7 separate regions of the Homo sapiens genome follow, and regions 2, 3, 4, 5, 6 and 7 are each linked to region 1. The links come from fine-mapping of genetic effects on gene expression. A gene starts in region 1. Each other region holds a variant in brackets. All regions are shown on one strand. Distances are between the middles of the regions.

The links. PIP is the estimated chance that this variant, and not a neighbour inherited with it, causes the effect. A credible set is the group of variants that fine-mapping cannot tell apart.
Region 2: its variant is the best candidate, but not a certain one, in a credible set for the expression of NCALD in lymphoblastoid cells (GEUVADIS, PIP 0.75).
Region 3: its variant is the best candidate, but not a certain one, in a credible set for the expression of NCALD in whole blood (INTERVAL, PIP 0.87).
Region 4: its variant is the best candidate, but not a certain one, in a credible set for the expression of NCALD in testis (GTEx, PIP 0.56).
Region 5: its variant is the best candidate, but not a certain one, in a credible set for the expression of NCALD in whole blood (INTERVAL, PIP 0.72).
Region 6: its variant is the best candidate, but not a certain one, in a credible set for the expression of NCALD in lymphoblastoid cells (TwinsUK, PIP 0.50).
Region 7: its variant is the best candidate, but not a certain one, in a credible set for the expression of NCALD in skeletal muscle (GTEx, PIP 0.79).

The regions. Positions count from the first base shown.
Region 1 is chr8:101,789,093-101,793,161 of GRCh38, reverse strand. NCALD (neurocalcin delta) reads left to right here and starts at 2,193. Exons shown (of 4, transcript NM_032041.3): 1 at 2,193-2,300.
Region 2 is chr8:101,966,552-101,970,620 of GRCh38, reverse strand. It overlaps a transcript of NCALD not described here. Among named protein-coding and RNA genes, the nearest start is that of MIR5680, 160 kb to the left of the region's middle. The variant T/C (reference allele first, on the strand shown) is at 2,353.
Region 3 is chr8:102,126,438-102,130,506 of GRCh38, reverse strand. No RefSeq gene overlaps it. Among named protein-coding and RNA genes, the nearest start is that of MIR5680, 3.0 kb to the right of the region's middle. The variant C/T (reference allele first, on the strand shown) is at 1,838.
Region 4 is chr8:102,063,804-102,067,872 of GRCh38, reverse strand. It overlaps LOC124901997 (a long non-coding RNA gene), which reads right to left. Exons shown (of 3, transcript XR_007061038.1): 1 at 3,993-4,069; 2 at 1,521-1,567. It also overlaps a transcript of NCALD not described here. Among named protein-coding and RNA genes, the nearest start is that of MIR5680, 60 kb to the left of the region's middle. RefSeq lists an enhancer at 1,205-1,783. The variant T/G (reference allele first, on the strand shown) is at 2,434.
Region 5 is chr8:102,074,501-102,078,569 of GRCh38, reverse strand. LOC124901997 (a long non-coding RNA gene) reads right to left here. Exons shown (of 3, transcript XR_007061038.1): 3 at 1,180-1,262. It also overlaps a transcript of NCALD not described here. Among named protein-coding and RNA genes, the nearest start is that of MIR5680, 49 kb to the left of the region's middle. The variant A/G (reference allele first, on the strand shown) is at 1,693.
Region 6 is chr8:102,112,294-102,116,362 of GRCh38, reverse strand. It overlaps a transcript of NCALD not described here. Among named protein-coding and RNA genes, the nearest start is that of MIR5680, 11 kb to the left of the region's middle. RefSeq lists an enhancer at 3,377-3,878. The variant C/T (reference allele first, on the strand shown) is at 2,327.
Region 7 is chr8:102,010,463-102,014,531 of GRCh38, reverse strand. It overlaps a transcript of NCALD not described here. Among named protein-coding and RNA genes, the nearest start is that of MIR5680, 110 kb to the left of the region's middle. The variant AC/C (reference allele first, on the strand shown) is at 2,371.

The sequences.
Region 1 (4,069 bases):
AGCCAGGATGGTCTTGATCTCCTGACCTTGTGATCCACCGGCCTCAGCCTCCCAAAGTGCTGGTATTACAGGCGTGAGCCACCATGCCCAGCCAGTTCACTGAATATTTTAATAGTTCACTGAATATTTTAATACTGCCCAAGGCAGTATAAAGTATACTTAGTCTTAAAAATGCTAAACCAGTCAAAGTAAAAGTGTTGGTTTTTTGCTAATTTTCAAATTAATCCATTTAAAGTCCTGAATTTTAGGCATTTTTTTTTTTTTTTAGAACTGAGAACTTCTTATTTCAGAAGACATCACCTATTAGCAGAATGTGGCACTGCAGTTTTTCTCTCTTAAATGCTAAAGCTGCATAAAGAGGAGGAAGAATTAATTAGGCAGCTATGGATTAGAGCCAGAGAGATGGTAAATTAAGCAGCTCAGAGAACGTGGGTCCAGGGAAAGCTAGAAGGGTATGTTTCTCTGCCTCTTCCGGTTCCCTCATTTGTATGATGTGCATTTCTGAACATAAAAGCAGAACAATAATTGGAACAAATTGTCAGTTTATGAATTGTGGCTGTTGGTGAAATCTGCCCCTAGTGAGGCTTTAGGTAGACATTGGATTCCATTGTCCTTGTTCAAACAGGTAAATTCCCAGCTGTCATTAATCTGAAATTAAAGGAGGAAAGTTCCTTATAGTTTGATTTCGGTTTTGCAGTGCCACAGCTAATCGCATCAGGAAAATAACTTTTTAAATAAAAATCTATCTTTTCTCCCAATTGGGGCTGGGACAGAAATAAAGGAAGATGAAAAGGAGGATGGAGTAGGACGATTCTATGACCAAGTGATTTGAACATTAGTCTTATTATTAAAGAAGCAATTTCTGATTCTACTAAAGAAATTTCATTCTTTTACAGTGACACAAATGTAATCTGCCTGGCTGACTTAGGTTCCATTTATATTTTGTAGCACCCCAGAGCTACTCTTTTTTATTTATTTATTTATTTTAAGAAACAGAATAGAAGTCGTTATAAGCCTAGCATATAAAGGTCCTTAGGGTTTTGAGGGCAGTCTCTTCTCCCCTGCCTTTTAACTCCTTGTCCTTTGTTTGGGCATACATTTTCTGAATGTCTTTTTCAGAGTACCTTCTTGTGAGTTTCATTGATTTTGTTTAATCGGCTTCCCATTAATTAAGAAAGAGAATTAACTGGGAAATAGGCACGTGTGCAGAGTTAAAAGTAAGCTAGGGTCGTCGTAAAGGAAATAAAGCTGATGTTAGAAAACATGTGAGATAACCCTTTCATTCTATGGCTCTGGGCTTTCATTACACTTTGTGTTTGTGGAACACTGGCCCTGTTTACTCAATGTTGAGTCTCAGCAAAGGGGTGTGGATGAGAGGACTCAAGAGGGGAGCATTTGGCACCCGTATGGCCCCAAAGCACAGTTTTCAGCTTACTCACATGGTTATTTTAAAGTAACACTGTTTTGAAACTCCTTCGGTCCTCATTTTTACCTAGACATTTTACAGTACAGGAATCCTGAATTTATGTTATCTGATGTCTACATCCTACTTGGTGTCAGGATCATTAGACTGTCTTACCTGTCTCTGAGTCATAAGCCACTGTCATGAACCCAAGCCACTGTTTTTTATTTTTCTTTCCATCACAAGCATGGTCTCAGTATATCCATGTAGACTCTGATATAGTTTTTAAAATACATTTTCTTCCAACCCCTCCCCCTGAGCTTCTGTTTTTATATATTTGCTTGCAAATAAGTTTAATTGGCTAAGAAAACTACTCCAGAATTTTTCAGTTTCTTTCCTTTTGTTATAGAGAAAGAGAGAGAGAGAGACATGCTTCATGCTGATGGTAGTGAAACAAATGAGAACTTCAGGGTGGCATATATTTTCCTGCAAGTAACTGTAGAGAAAAGACACCAAAGCCTTAAAGAGGAAAGTTGTAGGCATTCTGGAGTCACAACTTCGGGGGTTGAGGTTGTCAAGGAGCTGTCCGTGATGGTTCTATGGTGTGTGCGTACACACATACTCTCTCTCTCACACACACACACCACAGTGACAGATGACCTATTGAAATAATTTCAGAGCCGGTCTGTGGTTGCTACGACAACCAATGATCTCTTGGCTTTCATCTGGCCATGTGACAGGGACTTTGACGTCAGCTAGAGGCAGAGTCTGTGGCTGAGTCCACACAGTCAAAGGCTTGTGAGAATCTGGTGGATGCTGGACCTTGCTGCTGCTGCTACTGCTGTTTCCAGGGGCTGCAGAGCATGGACTGTTAAATCTTGCACTTCTTCTGAGTGAGGTAATTAGTTTGCTTTATATACAATAGTTAGATGTTTTTATAGCTCATTGTGGTTTTCCCCTCTCTCTTACCTCCTACAAGTTTGTATTCATGAGCAATTATTGTTGTACCAAGGGGAAAATGTGAAGCAGCTTCTAGTTGTGAATTTCAGGCAGGTTCTCTGGAATTTGGTTAAATTTGGATTAATGTTTTGTGAAGTAGGTTAAAATATAATCGTCTTGCTTGCTCAACACTTGCTAACATAACATTATTTAGACATACGGATTTTGCAGCTTGAGCCAAATATTCTCTCTTGAATTCCAGGAATCCTCCCTTCAGTATTGTTTTGGGTTTAAAAACTCCAGCATAGCCTTGCAATGTGTTTCTAACTTTTCTTTTTACAATTGCTACTCAATTCTGAATCAGCCTAAAATAGTTTGGAATTTGGTTTCTATCTTGTTTGCAGCATTCATATTTAGCAACAATAGGAACCACGGGAAATAACATTATAACTGAAACAAAAGTTGGGATTTTGCTTGTAAGTAAAACCTTTGGTATTCTGAAAGTACCAGGAAAAATTGTCAACAGTTTCCTGTTTAGAGAGAAATAATCGGGAATATGCCAAGGAAGTTGGGGTGGAACCTTTTACATGTGTGCATGCAATTGCTTTTTGGTTGTTAGAGCAAAGTGCATATTTCCAGTATCCTCCCCTGAAAATTCAGCTGTGAAGAGAATGGCATGAGGTGGTCTTTACTAAGGAGTCATGTAAGCTGTTGTTATTTTTAAAAATCGTCATAATTACCTAAAGAAAAAAACAATAGCCCTAAAATGAAAAGTATCATTGACACAAGTTCTACTTTAACTCAAACACAGATAGAAGTAGTCACTCACAATTTGCTCTGGATCTTAAATGAATAATTTGATAACTGTGATTAATAAGAATTTTTATCTCTTTATTCCTATAATACTATTTACTACAAATTGTTTTCTTTGTATTGTAGTTCCTTTCCTTCCCAAGTTTAGTAATTTCAGATTTTCTTTCATGACATACAGGTTGAATTGTTTTGGAGCTTCTAATTTAAAGAATACCTGTAGTACTGAAGTTAGCCAAAGTCTAGATTTATAACCAGGTGTCTAAATCTTACAAGTTTAACAGAAAAAGGGGCAAATTTTAGAGCACTACATGTAATACAGCTAGTATTTTAATTAGTAGAAGAAACTGGTTTAACTGTATATATGAATACCATATATTCACAGTGTGTGAATTATATCGTAATTTAGTGCAAGAATATATTGTTTTAATTTTTATGTTCTTTATTAGTTTCAGAATTCTAATAGCATTTATTTTACTCTTGGAGGTGAAAAATTTTGAACAGTATTTAGCTACAGTAATAAGTGAATAACTGTGGGTATATCAATAATTTCTCAGTAGCTTTCAATGAGTGAATATTCATTTAACTTGCTGGCATTTGACATGTCTGTTTTTGGTCAGGGTCTCCGTGGAGGATTTTCCAAAAGTCTAATGTGCTTTCATTCCAGGCACATCTACTGAGACATAATCTCATCACTTAATTGATCTCAAAATTATAATAACCCAGAGGCCATATTCTTAACACCCCTAGAAAAATGATAATTTATATGTAACATTTCAGTTGAGCACAGATAAGACCAGTAGCACCGTCATTTAACAGCACTATCTTTGATGAGGTACACTTTGACATTTACTTCTTTTACTCAAAATGTGGAATTATCATTATAGTTTTTCCAGGTAGCAGAGATTTTCTTGGTGC
Region 2 (4,069 bases), 180 kb before region 1:
AGTTTCTGTTAAACCACATGTTAGGCTTTGAGCCCTGAAACTTAACAACTGTGTAGAGTAATATACTGCTAGAAAATAGTTAGCCTGTACAACCAAAACAATTTTTTGGAGTAGATAGAGCTTTTTGGGTTGGGGCCACAAAAATTCTACAAAAAATTCAGACTCTTTTGATGGTAGAAATCTGCCTTCCAGGAGGGGGCAGGCAGTACCATTGATGGAAAATTTGCAAGGAAATATTTTGTTATTATAGCACTATTACAATGCAATAATACACAATGCAATTAAAAGATCATTATGGGTGAAAAGAGGTTGGAAGAAAAAGTAGAAACCAGCAGAAGCAATGTAAATACATGAACAAAATCTCCATATTTCCTTATTAAAAAGTAGAAGGCATTAAAGAGGTTATTTGCTACATTCTAAGAATCTGGAGAGTAGAAACTGAAATAAGTAGGGACTTGGGCTAAGAAATGATCTGTGATAGCTAAGTTACTACAGAGATAAATCAGTGATTGGAAAGTTACAGGTAAGTTACTTAATGTTCATGGAGCGGCTTTTCCTCATCTTTCTTCTCCTTCTCTTCATTATTATTATTTGTAGTATTACTCTGAGAGCACTTTGAGGGTTGTACCTAAATGGCTAAGCTAAATGATGTATGCTCTATTATCTGTAAACACATGTGTGTGCACACACACACACACTTAGATTTATTTCTACTTTCTACATTTTTCAGGCCTGAAATCAATCTAAGAGCTTGGGCCTGTCTGGCCTGCAGAAGGCTGAAAGTTGTAAAGTATTAGGTCAAATCATATGAAATTGTTTTTGTAAGTCAAAAACAGCCAAACATTAGTTATTTCATATGATTCAATATGGGAAATTCTAGATGTATCACAAAATGTAATGAAATGTCATCCATTATCTGGTAGTAGTTACCAAGACGAAGTTTCATGCTGGAAGAAATTAAAAAGCCCTTCTGAGGTGTGTCTTTTTTTGCCAGGCAGAAGCCACCCTGGGCTCTCATAGCCATTGGCCCCGTCTGAGAATCAGATGACCTGGGTTTTACTTATGTCTTCATTAAAAGATATGATAATTAACATAATACTCTCTCCCAAACTATGTGTTTTTTAGAGTTTCTTCTAGTCAAATGAAATAAATGTTGAAGGGCTTTGAAAAGCTAAAAATTATGTTGAAGTAACAGTATCATCATTACGAAGTGTGGGGTAATAGACTGAGGGCTGTTCAGAAACAGGAGAATGGAATCTTGAATAATAGAAACCCACTCAGATTTCTTGGTCCATTCTGAGTAGTGAATTCACCAGCTAATACAGGCAGGAGATTTCTCCCTTTAATGTGAGACTGGGCCTTCAGAGCTTGGCTTAGGTAAAAATGGAGACATCATTTGGATGGTACCGTATTTTTTTGAATTAAAAATAACTGTAGCTTTGTGCTGAGAACTGCAAGGAACAAATGGTTCTGTATGTCACCAGATTTAATGGAGACAGGTGGTGTGCTCGGCTCAGCCCTGGGGGCTTTCCTCACTTGCAGAGACTGCTTGTGTTGCCAAATTCCAAGATGGTTTAAGGCTGAACCAATGAAAGCTCCAACCTGCTTCTCCTCCTGTGAATACAGTAGAATCCAATCACAATTCATTCAGGACTGTCTCAAGCAACTGGGGTCCTCAGAGATGCTTGGATTGCATTTTGCTAGCAACTATTTTTCACTAGGCAATGGGGCTTCAGGCAGGCTCTTTCAGGAACACATTCACCAATTTGCTCGGTATGCATTGTGGGGCTTTGCTGGGATTTTACTTGGAGGGGAAAAATTTATGATAGAATTTGAAGAACACAATGTGAAGAAGGCATATGCTGTTTGGACCAGCATTTTTTTTTTACAGGAGAGTGATGTGGAGGGTTTTGGGAAGAGGGTGGCTAGATGGCAGGCACAGGAAGTAGGGAAAGAAACTACAAGCCCTTTCCTTGTGCCAGGTACTGGGCCATAACAGTGCAGGCATTACAGCAAGCATTTTTCACAGCGTCCTGAGTCAGGAAGCATTGTGACCCATCTTAGGGATAAAAAGACTCAGGTGTGACAGCAGAGCACTCTAGGCAGTACCTTGGTGTCAAACACTGACCTCAAAGAGATGAGTTTATGAGTTTTTGTTTACCACGGCTTAGTCCTAGATGATTAAACTCCAGCCTGGAAAATCTATTTGTCACAAAAATTATCTATTGATCTGCTTGTTTGATCTGGAAAAGTTGCTTTAAGGTACAAGGGGCTATATGAAATGGAAGTTAAATCTATTTTTTTTTTTCTTTTAAGAAAAACTGCCCTTTAAAGTTGGCCATTTATTTCCAG[T/C]TTTTGTGATTTCTTCACCTTGGAGCAAAACTTCTTTATTCTGGGAAGACCCACTTGAGTAGCCTCTTTTAGCTAAGTAGATATAAAGCCAATACCTACCGACTCCAGAGTTTGGGGCTTAGAGAAACCTGGAGGTCTGTAGATGGGTGACATTGGTCATAGGCTCTCCAAAACTTATTATTATACAAAGCTGAAAGTGATGGGCAGATTTGCTTAACACCTCTTAAGGGGCAACCAATCATATTCTGTTTCTCTTTGAGGCTCTGACTTGTTCTCATGGCTAGTGATCTGGGTGTCACACTACACTGGGGTTGTCAGAGGGGAGGTTGCTGATGTTGAAACTCCTCTGGCTAACGTGCCTTGGCAGAGCATCTGGCATGAAATGACTGAGGGTGAGTGCATGTGTGTGTGTGTGTGTGTGTGTGTGTCAATTTTAAGAGCTGTGTCAACAAGCTGCTCTGATGCTGGGAACGTAGGCCTACTCTGGGGTAGAGAGTCCAAGAGAGTGAGGCCGGGAGAGAAGAATCCTCACCCTCTGCTGCCTTGCTGGTGGCAGTGTGGGGCCTTGGTTCCCAGAACTCTTGCTGGCATTGATAACCCATTAGGCCTTGGGTTCTGAGACGCCTGCTAGTTGGCAGGCCCTGGCACTGGAAGTCTGTGTTCTGCTTTTAGCAGCAAAACTGTAGTTGTCTCAGTGGCAGAGTATGGGACACTTAACCAATTGATTCGACTTTCTACCTTCTCCTCTGCAAAGAGACAGTAGCCACATCTGACTACTTGGATTGAATATTGGGCCCCTAGGATTCCTGTCCCTTCCGAACAAGGGTTTCTCAGGAAGTAAGGCATCTTTACCAAAAGAGGAATTGATCTTGGATTCATATTGCTTTTACATCAAAATGTGGTGAAGATGAACTTGTGTTCCCTAATAAAAGTCCTTGGATTTAAAACATTCCTTTGAATTATTTGATGCTGTTTGCTTTCCTCATCTTAAGAGAAATGGAGTCCAGCACACTTCCTTGGCAACTTCCGTTGTGGTTTACAACACTGTTCATGAATCAACTGCTAAAATTTTCAGGCTTTAAGGGCATAGTAAGCACGATGTTATCACCAACAGATAGGTAAAAAATGAAAATAATTTGAATTTAGTTTGTTCCAAAAATTTTTGGCAGCTGTTTTGAAAGCTCTAGTTCTTTCCCTTCATCAAGCATTCCAACTGCTTTTTATCATAGACATGTTATGTACTGCTGAACACACACACGTATATATTCTAAAATTAGCATCATGAATATATATTATTTTATATCCTAATTTGTTCCCCATAATACATTATTTCATTATTATTTTTCAAAAACATGACTTTTAATGGGTGCATTCTCTTGTATAAATGTGCCATGGTTTAATTATGCAATGTTTTTGACACAATGGTTATTTCCATCTTCATCATTAAAAATAATGCTGTGATGAACATCCTTGCACCTGAATCTCTGTGATCTTCTCTGATTATTCTTTTAAGGTAGACTCCTGAATATGAAAGTTTTAGATTGGAGAGCAAGTTTAAGCTTCTTCATACCTATGTCAAAAAGGTCTAGATAAGAATGCTAAGTTTACCACATTCTTTTTTTTTAATTTTATTATTATTATACTTTAAGTTTTAGGGTACATGTGCACAATGTGCAGGTTTGTTACATATGTATACATGTGCCATGTTGGTGTGCTG
Region 3 (4,069 bases), 340 kb before region 1:
TTACTTCTATCTAAGTGTGTTTTTGTACCTATTAACCAGCCTCCTTTCATACTCCTCCCCTTCCCAGCTCTGGTAACCACCATCTACTCTCCACTTCTATGAGTTTGATTGCTTTAGATTCCACATATAAGTGAGAACATGTGGTATTTGTCTTTCTGTGTCTGGCTTAGTTCACCTAGCATAATGTTCTCCAATTCCACCTACATTGCTACAAATGACAATATTTCATTCTTTTTTTTGGCTGAATAATATTTTATTGTGTATATATACCACATTTTCTTTATTCATTGATCCATTGACAGACACTTGGGTCGATTCCATACCTTGGCTATTGTGAAATGGTGTTGCAGTAAATATAGGAGTGTAAGTATCTCTTTGATTTACTGATTTCCTTTTTTTTGGATATGTTCCCAGCAGCTGGATCATATAGTAGTTCTATTTTTCATTTTTTGAGGAACCTCCATGCAGTTTTCCATAGTGGTTGTACTAATTTATATTTCCACCAGCAGTGTATTAGCATTCCCCTTTTCTCCCCATCCTTGCCAGCATCTGTTATTTTCTGTCTTTTTGATATATATAGTTTAGCTATATATATCATAGTTATACACTTACCATGGGATCTAGCAATGCCAGTCCTATATATTTGACCAAATGGAATAACAGCTTGTATTCACAGAAAAAACTGTAGGCAATTATTTTAGTAGCTTTATTAATAATTGCCCCAAACTGGAAATAACCTAACTTTCCTTCAACTGGTGAATGAATAACAACCTATGGTACATTCATACCATAAAAAGGAATAAATCATTGATGTACTTAACAACACAAATGAATAACACATGCTTCATGCTAAGTGAAGCCAGACTTGAAAGGCTACATACTATATGATTCATTGATCTGACGTTCTTGAAAAGAAAGAACCACGGAGGCAAAGAACACATCAGTGATTGCCAGGGGCTAGGGTTAGGGCAAAGGCTTCACTACAATGGGCAGTAACATTTTTGGAGGGGTGACAGTGCTCTGAATTCTGATAGAAATGATGGCTACTCAACCGTGCATTTATTAAAACAAGCAGAACTGCTTATTAAGAAAGTGAATTTTATTGTTTGTCAATTAAAAAAAATACATTTCAAAGGAGCCTTCAATGACTTTGCATTGTTCTTAGAATAAATTCCAACTGAGAGTAAATTTTATGTTCTTGATCCCAGGTTGCGAAACAGTCCATGGTCTGGCCCTGGCACTCTGTGACCTTGTTTTTTACTCTCCCTTCTGGCCACTGTATTAAGCTCATTTTATGCATCCTCTAAGATAGATGATAATGCACCAATTTGCTAGAGCAAACCCAGCAGTGGTCTGTACTATCACTGTGTTCAGGGGGCCGGGTTGCTGCTACTTCTGCTACTACTTCGGATTGAGGTGCTCACTGTGGCTGCTGCTCCCAGTCCCTCAGGGCGCTCTCAGGTACAGCCAGCCCAGCAGTGCCTCACCTCCTGTCATATGCCTTGCCTTCCACCTTGGGACTTCCCTGATGTTGTCCAGGCAGCTACTTTGTGGCCACTCAAATGCAACCTAGGAGGGCTAAGTTAACTAATGGGAGACTAAATTGACTAACGGGAGAAGGGAGCCTGCTAGTAAGTTTTCTTTCTTCCAACCACACCAGTAGTCTTCCTCCACTGCCGACAGATGTTTGGAACTTCAGAAGCATTACATTGTTTCTCTGAAGACCATAGATCAGTGCCTTTCTCTTGGATCCCTCCTAAACTCTCAGTAATGCCCCCATACTGCCTCCTGACCAACCCTTGGTGCTCCTGCAGACTCGAGAGGCAATGCCCAGCCA[C/T]GGAATGCACTTCCTTGTAGTTGCTCTCCCTCTTCTCCTGACTCACTTCCCTTTTCTCTCAGTCCTACTCCCCTGTGATTTCACTTCCTTACGCACTGTTCATGCCTAAACTTTTGCTCAGGCTCTGCTTGCGGGGAGTTCAGCCAAAGGCACCCCCACCAAGCTCTAGCACATCTGATTTCCTGGATTCCAGAATAAGCTGTGTATTTCCCCCCAACCTACCCCCAAGTTAGAGCCTTTGCACTGTGTTTCCCCTGCCTGGCTCCTTCCTCAGCTGTTCCATCAATCATTCTATGTGAATTACTGACATAGGCACTCATCTAATATATGTCTTATGTGCTCTATTTATTTTTCTCTCATTAAACTTTAAGGCCCACAAGAGCATGAACCTGTCTGTCTTGTTTAGTGCTATATCCTGAGAGCCTGGAGCAGCTCTAAGCACACAGGAGGCCCTTAGAATGAATACTTGCCATTGTTGGACTGGCTAGTCTAAAATCTATACATTCAGTTGCTTGCTTGACACAAACTTGCCAGTCAGTGCCCAAAGTTGACCAAATGAGGTGGTGAGAGAACTGTCCCAGCAAATGAGACCTCTTGAGGTGGGAGGCTCTGAATGTAGACTTACTGCCGGTTGTCTCAGTGTTCCCAGTTTTCAATACCACACTGTTGAAAGAGCGTTTAAAAAAGCAGGGCCCGGCCAGGAGGGGTGGCTCACTCCTGTAATCCCAGCACTTTGGGAGGCCAAGGCGGGTGGATCACCTGAGGTCAGGAATTCAAGACCAGCCTGGCCAACATGGTGAAACCCTGTCTCTACTAAAAATACAAAAATTAGCTGGGCATGGTGGCGGGCACCTGTAATCCCAGCTACTCAGGAAGCTGAGGCAGGAGAATCACTTGAACCTGGGAGGCGGAGGTTGCAGTGATCCGAGATCATGCCATTGCACTCCAGCCTGGGCAACAAGAGTGAAACTCCATCTTAAAAAAAAAAAAGCAGGGCCCAACATTCAGACATAAATCTTTATGTTCTTGAATTAGGCAAAGCCTTTTAGGTATGACACTAAAAGTACAAGCATCAAAAGAAAAGACAGATAATTTGTGTTTCATCAAAATGGAAAACTTTTATGCGTCAAAGGACAGCACCAAGAAAATAAAAAGGCAAGCCACAGAAATGGAGGAAATACTGACAAATCATAGATCTGATAAGGGACTTATATCCAGAGTATATAAAAAAATTCTCACACCTGGATAATAAAATGATAAATAACCAAATTTAAAATGGGCAAAGGATCTGAATAGACATTTCTCTGAAGAAGTTATGGCCAATACACACATGAAGATGACCAACACCATGAGCCATTAGGAAAATGGAAATCAAATGTTATAAGATACCACTCTATGAGAACACATGGAACACACGGACACAGGGAGGGAACAACACACACCAGGGCCTGTCGGTTGTGGGGGTTGGGGAGCAAGGGGATGGAGAGCATTAGGACAAATACCTAATGCATGTGGGGCTTAAAACCTAGATGATGGGTTGATGGGTGCAGCAAACCACCATGGCACATGTATACCTATGTAACAAACCTGCACATTCTGCACATGTATCCCAGAACTTAAAGAAAAATTTAAAAAAAGAGATACCATTGTACCTCCACTAGGATGGTATGATTTTTTCAGTGGCAAATAACAAGTGTTGGCGAGGATATGGAAGAAATCTGGAACCTTCATATAGTGCTGGTGGGAATGTAGAATGGTGCAGCTGGTTTGGGAAAAGGTATGGCAATTTCTCAAAATGTTCAACGTGGAGTTACCATGTGATCTGGCAATTTATATATATACCCAAGAAAAATGAAAATGTACATCCACACAAAAACTCGAACAGAAATGTTCATAGTAGCATTATCCACAATAGTAAAAAAGTGAAACAACCTAAATGTCTGTCAACTGATAAATGGATAATCAAAATGTGATAGAGCTATACAATGACATCGTTTGTTCATAAAGAGGAACAAAGTACTGATGCATGCTACAACATGAGACAGCCTTGATAACATTAAGCTGAGTGAAAGAAGCCAGTCACAAAGTCCTCAAATTGTATGATTCCATTTATATAAAATGTCCAGAATTGGCAAATCTACATAGAGAGAAAATAGATAAGTGGTCACTGGAAGTTGGGGGTTGGGGAAAGAAGGGAATGAGTGCTAATAGGTGTGGGATTTCTTTATGGGG
Region 4 (4,069 bases), 270 kb before region 1:
AAGGGCAGGAAAAACAGGGCTTGGGAGAATACGACAGGGGAAGTCTGTTTGCTAGATGTGATTCAGTTTAGTTCTTTATTCTCTACCTGCTCCCACTTTTGTGGGGTGCCTGCTTCCTGCTGCAGGATAGTGAGGTGTGTTACTGCAATAATATCTGGAATGGACTCTGGGGCTACAAATTCCAGAGGGTATAAATGATACTGCTGAGGCTGCCCCACAGGTGTATGTTTAACTTTCTGAATCTGGCTTACATTCTCCCATTCTTCAAAAATTACGTTTTCTGTGGTAGCAAGAGGCAGTTATGATGATTCAGAAAGATAATGCCTACTGGTGCTTTACTAGATTCTCTTCCTGGAAAGTCCTTGCTAAAATTATGTCAAGGTCATATAAGGACAGTTTTGTGTGTGTGTGTGTGTGTGTGTGTTTGGGACAAGACTGATTCTGTATCACTTTAAAAGTATACAGTTGAAGGATGAGTAAACAACAACAGCAAGGTTAAGTGTTTGAGTAACATTGTTTCAGTGATAACTGATCTGAGTTTGATATCTTGACACAGGCTGCCACTTTGGATTCAGTTGTTGTTTTAAAATGGCTTCACATGTTTCCCTGTCACCTCAGGTGCTTCAGAGGCCAGCGTGCTAGAAGTGAGCACACATAGAAATAAGACACAGACTCAGGGTTTGCACATATAACAGGTGGACCCATTTCTCTCCATGGGTTAGGAATGGGCAATGGTTTGGGGGACTCTATTGGAGGTGGTTTGATGGGTCAAGGAGATAATTTTATCATTTCCATTTTTAGAATCTGAAAGATTTCTTTCAGTCTTCTGGAATCTTCCTTTAAAATGCAAACAATTCTGAACCAGGCCATTTTCACCCAATATCTCTGTTAGAATTAGTAGAAATGAGCTTGGAGGTAGGTGTCCAGAGGCAAATGGAGATGGGTAGAGCTTAGAGGAAGCTGGAAGGTGACCAGAGGTATGGAAGGATGACATCAAGGACAACGTCAGGCCAACTGCCTCCTTCATGAGTGGGGCTGTGCACACTCTCTTTCTGAAATGTTGTGCTTTAGTTGAAGAGTTTTCCCCAATATTTTGATTTAACATAAATTAGTGCATTTTGGTGCAAAGCCCATGCTGCTTTCCCAGAGTACAAAAAAGAATTAGGTGGAAGCTTCCTATTCAGACGTGCCCCAAGTCACGTTAACCTGTGGGCACACACCTGCCTTGCTGCGGGTTTTCCCTCTCTTCTCTAAGGGCAGGTCTTGAAAGGAAATGGATTTCACAAGTTGTATTCTTTTAAAGCTACATCACAATGGTCACTAAATAGCTATTTGTGTCATGAATGGCTGCCTCCCAGGCTATGCCTCAATCATCTTGTTCTTCGTGTATTGTCTGGGCCCAGCACCGTGCCACTCACACAGTGAGTGCCGACTGTGAGCAATGCAATAAGATTCTAGAATTACTGAACAAATGCTTGAATAACTGCTAGATGGTATTAGAGATACAAACCTTCTCTTACCTTGGGTAAAAAGCGTATGCTGATCCTGGTAGCAAATGAATAAGATCCTAGGAAATGAGAACCAGAACATAAAATATATTTCAGGAAGACTGAGTGAGGAGGGAGTGGCTCTCTTGGGGACAAAAATTATTTCTAGTTCAAAGTTATTGTGACAATTGTGGAGCACATGACCTGTGACATTTCCCTCCAGGCTTTGCCTGCCTGCCTGCCTTTTCATCAGTTCGGTATTGACTGGCCTCACCTTCCGGGGAAGTGGGGAATGAAGAAATGGCTCATTTTACTACTTGTTAGCGCTGTGAGTTGGGTCCAGGAGGGTGAAACTAATAGCTGAAAAAATCCTAAGGGTTTTCTAAAGACTTACTTATTGTCTTCTCATGAATAATTGAGAGCCATATATAGTTATAAAATCATATACAGTTATAAAATCATATATAGTTATAAAAATTGTCAAGAAACCCACAACCCACTCTTGTCTCCTTGGAAATGTGGTATGGAAATGTGCAAGAATTTTATTTATTTATTACTTTATTTTAATGTTTATTCTGGAGACAGGGTCTCGCTATGTTGCCCAGGCTGGTCTTGAACTCCTGGCCTCAAGCGATCCTCCCAGCCTCCCAAAGTGCTGGGATTACAGGTACACACCACCTTGCCCAGAGTAAAATTTTACTTTTGAGGCAGCATAGCTGTGATATTTGTAATATTAATGCCTCCAATAGCAAATTCCTGTAGCCCTGGGGAGTTTAAAATTGGGATGACGTTGGATGGAGGATGCAGGTGGTAGAGAACAAAGAAAGCTGAATTCTAAAAATGTGCAGCCTCAATGCCCTGACCTTTGTGTCTCTCGCTGCAATGTATTAAAGGCCTCTGTTTCATTTGTAAGCATTCATTCATGGAGGAATAACCTCCCAAAGGT[T/G]TGTAGCAAGCATTCCTGGGGATCTATTGGTAGCTTGGACAGAAGGCTGAGTGCCTGGAGTTGTTCACATCCCCGCTTTGCCCGCTGTCACTCTGCCCTGAGGTAACAGGCAAGCGGCTTCCTTGGGTGGTGGCGCCTGCGTATGGAGCAGTGGAAATATATGGGCAGATATGAAAAAAAAAAGAGCCTTCACTGATTCACATCAGGACCAAGTAATGTGACTTTTCAGATTAGCAGATCGAAATCTGTTGCAGCCGCTCAGCATTTCTATTTCAAGCCTGGAGAACATCTCTCCAACTGTTTCTTTCTTCTTTCTCCACTCCTGCTTCAGCCCTCAAAGCCCCTACTGCTTTTTAGCTTTTTGGTTCCTCCTGTGCTGTAGAGTCCATTGCCTGAGGTTTCTTGATTTTTTTTTTTTTTTTTTTTTTTGCCAAAGTGAGAAGAATTGTCAAATCTCGTACTCTATTGTAGGCTGGACTCCACTGAAGACATGTCAGAGAAGCAGGACTGGGGTTCCCATAAATCCTGGTTGAATGAGCAAGGGCATGAGTGGATGGGGAGACACCTAGGGAAGAGCAAAGTGCCAAAGAATAAAGCACAGCATCTAGGGTGCTTCCCGCTGATAACACTCAACTTTGCACACTGGCTCAAACATGGTGTGAAGAAAGTTTTCATTCCTGTGTGGTATGTGATTTTTGTACATTTCATATCATTAGAACACCAGGTTCATGGAGCAGCTGCTACCTGTAGACACTGCACTTGACCCTGAGCTTTCAGAGGTTAATAAGCTTTAGCTGCCATCCCCAAGGGGCTCTCTGTCGTGGAATGCTGTTTGTTTTGGACCTGCATCACTTGTAGAAGTAGAAGGGGCTCAACAAGTGTCTGAGAAAGGGAGTGAATGATGTTCATACAAAGAACGAAAGAACTGAAAGTGATTCAGCAGGTTTTATTTGTATTTGGTGTACTTGGGCCCAGTGGTGTTGTGGAGGTGTGGGGAGCCATCCATTCATTCTCCCTCAGCCTGCCTTGCCCTGGTGGCACCTGTTTCAGGGACATGGGGCTGGGTTAAAGGAGCATGTACCTGACTCGTACAAGCATCCAGTGGCCCTTCCCCTGAGCCCTGGCAGTGTTGGGGAGTGGGTGTTAGTACTCTCTCCTCTTGATGTAGATATTCCCAGAGCTCTGGGGCTGGAGGATAGATGAGGAAGGGTTAACTCCAGGGTGGTGACAGCTGAATATACAGCATAAACAGCATTTGGGGATGAGATCACTTCTGTTTTGGGAACCTGAAGGCAAACACAGTTGCATTTGTTCGTGTAATCATTGCCTTGTTTGAGGTTGTTTATGTTTAGAAATTCATGTTGGAACATTTATCAGTTGGGGCACAGAAACCAACTCTGGCTACTTAAGCCAAAAATGAATCCACTGGTAGGCCATGGAGCAGTTCCCAGGATTGAGGGAAAAGCATGAATTGTATATGGACCTGGTCTCAAAAGGAAGTGGGGCAATTCTGGGGTTCTAAATACTGGGAAATTAGGGATAGTCTTTTCGGGACTCACCTCAGGATGAAGCAGGAGCTGTTTTCCATCCTGAAGTTTTCCTGGAAGAGCAAGTTGGCTGGGTCATTCTGCCCATC
Region 5 (4,069 bases), 290 kb before region 1:
TGAATTAGGGGTGAGTAGTGGGATTTGAGGTCTGAGAGGCAAGAGGTAGGGACATCTCACAAAGGGACTTGTAATATGGTTAGACATTTGGACTTTTTTTCTAAGCGAAATAAAAAGCCATTGATTGGAAGGGTCTTAAGTTGAGGAGTTACATTTGATCATGATTCACATTTTTAAAAGATCACTGTGGTGGCTGTGTGAAAAATAGAATGTAGAGGGGCAAGAGTAGGAACAAAGAGACCAGGTAGCTGACTATTACAGTAATCCCCTTGAGAGGTGATGGCAGCTGGGATTAGGGTGGTGGCAGTGGAGCTGGCGAGAAGGGGCTGTGTAGGGATATTGCAGGATTTGTAGGTGAGTTGGGCATGGTGTGATAAAAAGAAGAGATAAATTGAGGTTGATGACTAAGTTTTGCCAGAGCAACTGGTTGCATGGGGTGGCCATTTGTAGACATGAGGGAAGACAGGGAAAGGGTCAGGATGGGGGTGAGGGAGGAGAGAAAATAAATTCATGTTTTGGACACGTTAAGTTTTGAGGTGCCTACCTGGTCTCCAAATGAATCTGTCAAGCAGCTACTTGGATATTTGAATCTGGAGCAGGGGAGAGGTCAGGACTGGAGATTAGCTAAATTTTGCCAGAGGTGTAGCTAGAATCACCCAGAGAGAGAATGTGTATAGAGCAGAGGAGGCCTGGAGCTAATCTCTGGGGTACCCCGATATCTAGAGGTGGAGATGAGGAGGAGAGCCACCAAAGAGAACCGAGGAGCAGCAGCCAGTCAGGTAAGAGGTCAAATTCCAGAGACAGTGAATTCAACTGATATCTGGCCCACCAAGGTGTAGGGCCCCTTCCAGTCTGCTGTCTGTCCTTGGCCCAATCAGTAGTCGCTAAAGGGAATGGGGGTATGAGGCCTGCTGTCTACTAAGTTTGTGGGCAGTCCAGATTTCATGAGAAGGGGAAGGGATAGGACGGGCAGGCATTCTAACACTTGCCTAAAGTATAATTTAAATTTTGCTGACAGACTGTTAAGGGATATTATTTCTCTCTCTCTATCATATCTTTCTTTTAATTTATCTCATTTTTACAGACTTTTTATTAGTTCCCTCTTAACTTTTACTTTCGAAACAATTTCAGAGGCATTTGGTACCACCAGTATCAGGATTTCTTCCTACTTTTCTGTCTTCTTTCCTTTCTTGGTCCAGCTTTTAAAGGTTTCTTTCCATGCTCCCATCCATGGACACAATGCGGCCTCCGTATTTTGAACCCTGTGGAGGAACCATAGGATGGGGTGATCATCACAGTCAGTTCTTCTCCAGGCAGTGGGGAAATGATCCTTTCAATCTGGTATGAGTTTTGTTGGAATGAACCTTTCACCCAAGTAGTGCTAAGGCATCCCAGGAGGCTCATACTAGCAATTCCACCCCACCCCCTCCACCAGCCTCTGCAAAGGAGAGACAGGGAAAGAATAGAGAACATTACTTAATTTGGGGAGTTATGTGACTAGCTGTTGATGAAGAGAGACTACATGATTTCAGGAAGGGCCTGTAAGGGAAGGGGCGTGAATGGGGAAGATGATATAGCATTGCTTCATTCTGGCCTCAAGCAGAATTCTCAATCCTAGGCCACAGGTCACTGTGCAGGTGTGAGTCACGGGTGGGCCACAGGGCCAGCAGGGTCACAAGTGTAGGCAATTGT[A/G]TAAGTCTACCATCACCATTAGAAAAACAACTTCAAGTGTGTGTCATTTCAGAAGGAAGGCGTGCTATTTGCTTTAGGTAATTATACTTACCTGTAATTATTTATGTAATTATAGCTACCTGTAATTATTTAGGTAATTATAGTTACCTGTTCACCAGCATTTGGGTACATGGTTAAAGATGCAGCCAGAGAGGATTTATTCAATCCAGAAGCCTCTTAGGTGAATACAAGTATTATTTTGTGTTGGTTCCCTAGATCCTCTTTGCTGTGAGAGGATGCATTCTCTCTGGAGAGTCATTTTGAGCTTCTATTTCTCACATATAAACTGTGGAAAATAGAGTTGACTTTTTCACTCCCATGATTGAGTTTAATGGCCTTGAGATGTGGCAAATCTTATGTAGCTGCTAAAATCTTATTCCATTTCTATGTTCCCAACCTCTTGGCTTTATTTTTAGGGAGGCTTTCTGTTATAACCGGTACAGGCAGGTGGTTCAGCATCTGCCCAGGGAGAATGAGACTGATTTTTCTTCTCCGCAAGCCTGTGTGTGTCACTCATTAGCTTGACTTGGTTACTAACAATAAGTCACCTGTGTTCTCTTAGCAGACTATTTTACAAACATTTTAAAAACATTTCAAAAGTTGAGAAAAGAAAGAGGGAAAATCTTCATAACACATTTTCTTAATAAACACGTTTCATGTTTTATAATAAACATGTTATTTTTTTATTCCTTTTTGGTCTTTATACTATTTATATGTATTTTTAGAATTTTAATGATAGCATACACAAGTTTTATATTCCTTTATAATATTTCATAATAGTTTTATTTTTTACATACTATTTCATAGATTAGAATGACCATAATTTATTTGATATTCTCTTTGGGGACATTTATTTTGTTTCCAGTTTTTTGTTTGTTTTTTTTTTTGAGACAGAATCTCGCTCTGTCACCCAGGCTGGAGTGCCACGGTGGAATCTCGGCTTACTGCAACCTCTGCCTCCCTGGTTCAAGCAATTCTCTGCCTCAGCCTCCTGGGTAGCTGGGATTACAGGTGCTCACCCCCGTGCTTGGCTAATTTTTTTGTATATTTTAGAGACAAAGTTTCACCATCTTGGCCAGGCTGGTCTTGAACTCCTGACCTTGTAATCCATCTGCCTTGGCCTCCCAAAATGCTGGGATTACAGGCATGAGCTACCGCACCTAGCCAACGTGGAAACATTTTCATGAGTCTTGATTCATCTTGCCAATGTCTCTTAAGTTTATTATTAAGATTCTCCTATTGATTTAAATAAGAAGGAACCTCAGAAGGGAGAACTATAAAGGAGAAAAAGAAAACCCTAAGAGATGCAATAAATAATTATCCAGATTATTCTAATTTATCAGACCTACATAATTCTATAGTATTATACAAGCACACATTGTATAATATTATAGTATTAGACAATCCTCTGCCTTGGTACCACTATTGTCCCATCAAGTCCTGAGAAAATGAGAGAAGATTTCAATGAGAGCTGAACCTCCTGTTACATTACTATGATCCTATAGTATTATGTAAATGTAATCCTATAGTTTTATAGTTATGTTTCCATAAATATTCATGGACACATAGGGAAAAATTTCCTTTTGGTAACATCTATGAGGTTTAGACTTTTCTTGGTGTGGCACTTGCTGTGAGTTGTCTACTTGTTATATGTTCTCTTTCTTTCTTACTAAGAGAAATCTGAGTTTTTTCAGAGCAATAGGCCCCGTTAAATATTCAGTTTCTCAGTGTGTCTTACAGCTAACTGGCCAGGGGACACAGTTCTGACCAATATAAAGTAAGCAGAAGTCTGTGATGTTGTCTTTTCCCCTTCCTCCTTCCTTTTGCCTGGGATGCAGCTGTGATGCATGGAGGTGTAGCAGCCACGTTATCACCTTATGGAAAAGAAGCCATACATGAGAAGAAATGATGGAGCAGTACAACAAAGTTCCCAGCTGAATGGAATCATAATGGCCCCACCCAAAATTGATTAAAAAGTCACAGCTGAATGGAATCATAATTGATATACCCTAAATTGATTAAAAAACCACTGTTCTAGTTTATTGCATATATTTTACAAGCATCTTCAAGTTCTTTATAGAAGAAAGTAGATGTAAACCTGTATACACATCAGTAATAATATTGTGTGGAAGTAAATATGCCCACAGGAAGAGGTGGAGGATTTCCTGTGGAACCGACGTGAGAGCTGCTGATCAAGTGCAGTCAGGGTTGATGGCCATAAATCTAATTTCTGAGACTCAAAAACCAGTCAAAAAGTATACAGGTCATCAGTCTGGGTTTGGGGCACAAAAATTAAGATCTTGAAGAGAATATGGCCAACAGGAAGCTAGGTCAGTCT
Region 6 (4,069 bases), 320 kb before region 1:
ACTCTGTTACGGTGCCCCTAGATTTGATTTACTGTCTGGATTCTAGGTTCCTTGACACACAGTAGAGGTTTTTGTTTTTGTTTGTTTTTGTTTTTGTTTTTGTTTATTATACTTTAAGTTCTAGGGTACATGTGCACAACGTGCAGGTTTGTTACATATGTATACATGTGCCATGTTGCTGTGCTGCACCCATTAACTCATCATTTACATTAGGTATATCTCCTAATGCTATCCCTCCCGCCTCCCCCCACCCTACGACAGGCCCCGGTGTGTGATGTTCCCCTTCTGACACAGTAGAGGTTTTCTAAATGCTTTTGATTTGATCATTTGCAACTTTATTCTAACTTTAAACAACAAAATAAACAAACACTTAAAATCTACCGTCCTTTACTTCTGAAATAAAGGGGTGTGAAAGAGGCTGTCAGAAGCCAGTTTGATCCCTGTCTCAGCTAAACGTTTTCTGGGCTTTGCTTTGCTGGATGGCATTGAAGGAAATGAATGGGAAAAAGAGCTGCCACTGGTCCTGTTCAGGCTTCTCACCTGGGGCTTTCCCAGATGCTTTTAGAAATATAATTTCTCAGAGGAAGGCTAAGGATGCTGGAGTCTTTCAGGAAAGGGAAGCAGAAGCAGCAGAGACTCAAGTTTCTAAGCCCATGCTTCAGGAAGCATCCACTACAAATATTGTTTGTGAATGCCATTGACCCATCCGCACGTCTTTTATTTATGTATTTTCAACAGTGAGCCCCAAAGTAGGGCCTGTGTACATCGGGCACATAAGGCAAGGTAAAGAGTAGCTTTGGCAATGGCCTGGAGAATTCGATGACTGTAGTCCATCAAATGAGGTGTATCAGAAAAGTCCACTCCAGGGCATCAATTATTCTGTTTTATTGTCTGCATTGATCGCATTAACTGGGGAAGAGCCAAAATCCATTCAGTCTGTGCTATGGAGTAGCAGGTGTAATTAAGGTCAGTTTCTCTCTAGGGGGCAGCTAATTTTGGTTTCTCAGCTGCTTTACAGTTTGACTTTAAAAGAGAGGAAGGAAAGAAAAAAAGGTAAAGTGCCCCTTCATGTTACCATCTTACCTATCCTACTGTATCATTGTTACTCTGGTTAATATTAACTTTGGATCCTTTTGCTTTAACAGTGTATCGGAATACTGTGATACTTACAGAATTTAGTCTCACTACCTGAAGAAAAGGTTTGCCTTGCAGGGGACCAACTACACAGTTTGTGGGGCTCACAACAAAATGAAAGTGTGGGAACTTTGTTTAAAAAAATTAAGAATTTGAAGATGGTGCTAGTGGAGGATTAATGCCAGCATGGGGCCCTGCTGAGTATGGGGCCTGTGTGATGGCACAGGTCACATGCTCATGAAACTGGCCCTGGCTTTGTGCATATGCTGAGGATGGTGTCCTTTTACCTACCTGGCACCTTAACTCCCAAAGAGTGACCAGGCCAGTTTCCTCTGCCTTGGTTGGAGCACAGCTCTTCTGTAGGGCAAGGGCAGTAAGAGGCCTGGATATCTCCTGTTGGCCCTTCCACATCCCTGGCTCCCTTCTCCACCTGGCTCTGTGCCCCAAGAGGTGATCTTTACCACTGGCGTCAATGGCCATCTTTTCTTCTGACTTCTGGTATAATTTGGCCAGAAATCAGCAGGAGACGGGAGGGTGGGAGGAGAGTGAGGTAGGGTATTTATTCCCCTGTCCCTCCACTGGGTTGCAAGCTGCAGCTTGGTGTGTGTGTGCTAAAGACCACAGCGCCTGCAGCTATCCTCTCCATATCGCCACCCTCTTTGGGTTCCTTCAGCCACTTCCTCCCCTCATGCCTTCAGGCCTAGGGTGGTCATGGCTTCCTGCTATTACTAGCCTTAGAGTCCTGCATCATCCTTCATTGCTTTCCTGAACCCCTGTATGACTTTCTTCTCAATAGCCTCTTCAGTAGGACTCCTCTGTAGGATTCAAGAGCAGCCTCTTTAGTTTTCTGGTTGGGCTTTAACTGATTTGGTAACCCTTGGACAGAGTTTGGCCACAGCTTGCTCTGCTGCAGGGCAGAAAGAGAGAAGCTGATGGCTGTGATAACACGTGACTCTGCTGGGCCAGCTCCTGGTAGGGATGGGTGATCAGAAGGCAGTACCTCCACATCTACAGTGGTGGAGAACGTATGTTTGAGAGCTAGACATTTGAATTCTCTGGCCTGACTTTGGGGAAGTCATCTCATCCATAAAATGAGCGAATGACAGCCCTTCACTTACAGGGCTGTTTTGAGCATGAAGCGAGATCACGTGGGCATCATGCTTGTCATAGTGCCTGGCACACAGGAAGTGCT[C/T]GAGAAGCATTGCTGCTTTTAGCATTAGTTCTACGGAGTGACCCCCTTGAGGGGATACACTCGCTACTCTTCTCTGATCTGAACTAAGGCACTGACAGCCTAGACTACACCAATGATTATCAAGTTTTCACTGATTCACGGTTGTTTGGGGTGCTATTTCTGTCTTTTCAAGTAGATTGTTCTGAAATTGTTCTTATCTTACATACCTTTTAAAAAACTAATATAAGTGCCCAACCCAGTAGGTAGCACATCATAACTGGCCAAGAAATGTTTCTTGGCTAAATATAAGACGACTACATAATTTATTGTTCACATTGGGACATTTTTGAGAGTGAAAGGGGAGGACTTTCCAGTAATTACAGCAAAACAGCAGGCACAAATGGGGACTGTCCTAGGCAATCCAGGTAAAGAAACATAGTTATTCTACTTAAGTGGGACTTAAGGCAGTTTTCAAAATACATTTTTAAAATTTGCCGGCCTACCATATTTTGTATTCGTCTGCCTTTGGTTTATGAAATAAAAACATGAGATTTGAAAAACATAGGCAAAAATATGTTTAACACTTCTAATAGATTCTTGGCCTGAATTTGAGGCAATGGGCCAGGGCCTCTTATCAGATAGAGACCTACTTTTACACTTTGTTACCCTGCTTTACACTAGGTACCTATTTATAAACTTTCTTCTGTGCCTGCTTTTAAAAAAGATAATCTCCTAATTATTGTCTTTCTTGCTATAGTGATCATTTATGCTTAAAGATGGCAAAAATAGATTTATATACATGTGTTTTTTGGAACATCTTTGTCTTTGTATTTCTGGTTGCCTGGGTGACATTTCCAAGAGAATATGTGCTAATCTGCTATTACTGAAACAGAGATAAGGTGGAAACTATTTTTAGGTCTGTCTATACCTTTCCTTTTCTCTCCTAGACCACTTAATTGGTTTATTTTTTTCTGTTTCCATTGTTTGAAGGGCATTCATAGCTTCTGTCTTGGTCCATTTTGCGTTGCTATAATGGAATAAGTGAGACTGGGTAATTTATAAAGAAAAAAGGTTTATTTGGCTTATAATTCTGATGTCTGTAAAAATTCAAGATTGGGCATCTGGTGAGAGCCTCAGGCTGCTTCCATTCATGATGGAAAGTGAAGAGGAGCTGGCACGTGCAGAGATCACATGGCCAGAGAGGAAGCAAGGGGAGGGGGAGGTGCCAGGCTCTTAATAATCAGCTCTCCACTGAACTAATAGAGTGAGAACTCACTTACCTCCCTCCTCCACCCAGGGAGGGCATTAATCTATTCATGAGGCACCCACCCCCACGACCCAAGCACCTTCCATTAAGTCCCACCTCCAACAATGGGGATCAGATTTCAACATAAGATTTGGTGGAGACAAACAACCTTATTTAAACTATAGCAGCTTCCTTCCTGTAGTTCTAATTTGGGGACTGGATAACTTTTTTGAAAACTGATGTAGTCATTCAGTATCTTCTTCATTCACAATAGCTAAATGTGTATTGATAGCCAATTTGTTTGGTTAGTTGATAACAATTTTTTTTTTTATCACAGTTTGTCTAAAACAAGCTTAGGCAAGGGATATTTTTGGTATAAAAAAAGAATGTGGAGGCAATCTGTTGTTCTCTGCTGGAAAAAGCACATCCCTTCTGGAGCTGGATTAATCCGGTTTTGGTCTTAGTATTGCCACTTATTAGCTGTGAGGCCCCTGGAGCTTGTATCTTCAGGTGACAAC
Region 7 (4,069 bases), 220 kb before region 1:
GGAATTTTCTGGTGCTTTCTCTCATAAAGAGATTTCTTTTTAGACCTATTGCTGTGATGGGAACATTTGTATACCCCCCAGAATTCATATGTTGAAACCCAACCCCCAAAGAGATGGTTTTAAGAGGGAGAGCCTTTGGGAGGTGATTAGATCATGAAAGTGGGGCCCTCATGAATGGAATTCATGCCCTAATAAAAGAAACCTATGGGAATTTTGCCCCTTCCATCATGTGAGGACATAGCAGGAAGGCACCATTCTATAAATCAGGAATAGGACCCTCACCAGATTCCGAATCTGCTGGCACTTTGATCTGAGACTTCCCAGCCTCCAGAACTGTGAGCAATAAATGTTGCTTATAAGCCATGCAGTCTATGGTATTTTATTATAGCAGCCCAAATGGACAGAGACTCACATGAAGCCTGCTTCCTAGGGCAATTCTGCCCTCTCCATATTGGTCTCAGATTAAGAAACAGGTTCCTGCATGAAGTTGCTATTGATGCTTCAAAAACCTGGCCCACAGGGTCATAGCAAGGACCCATTCCTCTGACAAGCTTCTTGCCAAGAGCTCTCAACTTTTTAATCTTCCTGACTTTGAGTATCTTGTTATTCAGTGAAGGGAGTGTGCTGCCAAAATTCTAGTTTTCTCAAATCTTGATAAAGGTTAATTTTACATTTATCCAAATTCTTAAGCTGTTCTCTTTCCTTTAATTCCATAGAAAATGCTAGCCGTGATTTCTGGATTAAAGCACCTGCTCTCCTTTTGTCTTTCCTTTTGTTTTTGGACTCAGGTATTTTAAACTCATTCCTTTCCCCACTTAGTGAGAGACATGAAGTCAAAACATCTGGCAACATCATTAATTTTTTTTTTAACATATCTTGTTCAATTTGGGACCATTACATATGTGTTCCAAGCAGGTAGCCAGAGAAGGGCACGAGGTCATGCCTCCCAGTGGAGTCAGCCCAGGTAAAGAGTTGTTCTGGTTGCCCTGGCCAGTGAATTCCAGCACAATCTCAATGGTCACCCTTAGCTGCAAAGGAGGATGAGAAATGTGTCTTTAAGTTGGGCATATTCTTTCTGCTAAATCCATTGGGGCTGGGCTTGCTATGGATGGAGAACTAAATGTAGACATCAGACCAACAGGGAGGTAAAGATTAGCAGTAGGACCAGTGCTGCTGTATTGGAGAATGAGCTTAAATTATGAACAGGTTCATCTACAATGACATCTCCTATTACTTTGATTGCTGAGATCTTCTTTCATGGAAAAGAAAAATATGAGCTGCTGAGACCAGAAATAGAGAAAAGGGGAGGTACCTAGACCACCATGTGCTTATACACTCTCAGGCCAGCAATTCAATTCACTCCCTTGAGGGAGCATGGAGGGATGTAGTGAGGTAGAAGAATCACCTTCTAGTAGTTTCAAGAAGATAAACGTTTTTGTTTTATGTGCCTAGGTAGTAGGAATGTTGAGAAGGAGAGAATGATGCTTCCTCTAATACTTATGTATGTATGTGTGTGAGGGTATATATTTGTGTGTGTGTGTGAGTGTATGTGTGTATATATAAAAATATCTGATTGTTATATATTATTACATATTGTGACAACTGTATTATATTAGTTGCTTTATATGTTTACTCAACTCCTGCTACTAATGACCTTGCAATGTGGTGATCTGCTATGGGAGCTGAGAAAAGGGAAAATTCATGTGTGTTTTGCAGTCCTGAAGCCCTTTTAAAGGAGATGGGCATGAACTGCTTATAGATCTTAAAGAATGGGTAGACTTGTTTCAGGTAAAGAGGAAGGGTGACTCAGGGTAAAGAAACAGCAAGGACCACAGCCACTAGGCCTTCAGCTGTTTCAGAAGCTCACTGCATGATTCATCATTAGATCCCTCTGCATTGCTTCTCAAGAAACAAACAAACAAGCAAATGCAGATGACTGGGCAGTAGCTCCTGTGATTACACATCCCGCTACTCCCCGCACTAGAGGAGTGTTTGAGGCAGGCGCTGTTGGTGTGTAGCAGGCTCTGGCCTCTCCTTACGTCCTTGTCGTCTTTGACTCCTGATGTAATGCTGATTTGGAAACTCTTAGCAATTAGCCCAGCTCCCTACCCAAGGCTCAGCCCGGGAGTTGGAGTTGACAGCTAATTGTTGCCACTGATTGCTTTGCTGACAGTGCTCTGTGGCTATTTTGGTTTTTCTTGAGAGTTCCTTAATTAGAGAAAATGACATCGTGTGCTGTCCAATCAGTTGCTTGTTGGATATTATTACATTTGTAGGAGAATCAGGTGACATTCGGGCTTGTTCCTGCCAAGCTGGTATGAGGTTGATGACCTGCAGCACAGTTTGCTTGGCAGAGCAGTTGTCCCCACA[AC/C]AGCTGAGACCAGTTTGCCACTGACTTAAGGGAAGAGCATTCTGCATTCCCAGTGTGGACTCAAAGTACCCAGGACTCCTTCGGGGCAATGTCCCATTGAAACTTTACACCTCACAGTGGCCATTGCCTCATTAGAATGTTGACTTTCTTCTCCCTGAAATGAGATATTTCAGGATTCCTTTGATATTTGCCTTTCTGACGAACATGGAAAGACCCTTTTGTTTTTCCATGGGAGAGATACAAATAGGACCTGAAGATGAATTTCCATTTGGTGAAACTTTAAATGTGGTTTCTCATATAGTATAGTAAGATCTCACTACACTGCTTTAACTAACAGGAAGGATGATCTTAAATTAGAAAATATTTTGAGTTATAAGATAAATTTGAAGAGTTTTACAACTCTGAAATCCACAGAATAATTTTTACATGCTGATTTTTAGGTAGCAGTCCCTTCTGAGGCTATAATTTGAATATAATTCAATTCAATAATTTGAATTATTTTGGAATAGCACATACCTACTTTATGTGTTTATTTACACATAAACTAGGTAGGAAAGTTTTATACATAAGATTGTCAAATGAGCACTGACCTTTCTAGTTCCTTATTTCTGACATTAATTCATTGCATCAAAGATTTATTGAGCCTTCAGGGGTACCCTTGGTCTTAACAAAGAAGTATGGGACACAGTTTCTGTCCTCAAGAAACTTACAGCCTAGCTGGGAAGTTAACATTCTCAAGTGAGACCTCGTGACTTCCTCGAAGGGATCTTTGAGGAAGATGTAGCTTTTCTCCTGGAGTTATCAGTGTTGGAACAGAGAGTAAAGAATGCAGGATTGATCCAGGGTTGAAAAGATAAGAGGAGAAGAATATTGAGGATCTATGGAGAGTTCATAACGTTCTCAGATTGGGCACAGAAGGAAGGAGACCAAGGTGTATTTGTGTCTGTGTTGGGGGAGTAGGGGTTGACCATAAAGTTGGAGAAAGTGGTTAATGGATATGGTGGATGGGTAGAAGTCAAAGAGGACTCCGTGAGGTCAAGAAAGAAATGAAGAGTAGGTAAGTTTCAAGAGAGATCAAACAATGTCTCTTGTCCATGTTTCCTGTGGGTCTGTCTTTGCCTCCTCAACTACATGATTAAAAAGGAACCAGACGTGACATTTCTCTTGTGTATCCTTCCCTGAAGAAATTCACAGCTTATTCATGGGATATATGAAGATCATTTGGTTGAAATTATCAACTTTCTTGTACATATATAGAAATGATTGAGTTGCTCATTGGTTAGTGTGTATGGTGACCTCCAAAGTGTTTCCTGATGTAATCTTATGTGGTATAAACACCCACAAACACAATGAAGAAGAGGAAGTCCCCATCACCTGATAATTGTTCATTACTTTTAAGTAAAGGAAAATTGTTATCTCTAGGGAAACGTCAGAGAGACCCACAGGCTGGAGGTGATTTTGCCTTACCAGTAAAGCCAAAGTTGCTGTTCTTTCCCACAGGCCGACAGCTCTCCTTTTACTCTTCCTGGTTTTTCAGGCTAAGTGTATTTGAAGGCCCAAATGAACAGCTTAAACTTCTTTCTGATCCTGTTACTGTTTTCCTGCTCAACACTCAACTTATTCTCATGTTTATATTTAACCAATGTAATCCTCATGAAAGACTTTTATAGTTGAAGTCACAGTGAAAACTAGAGAATA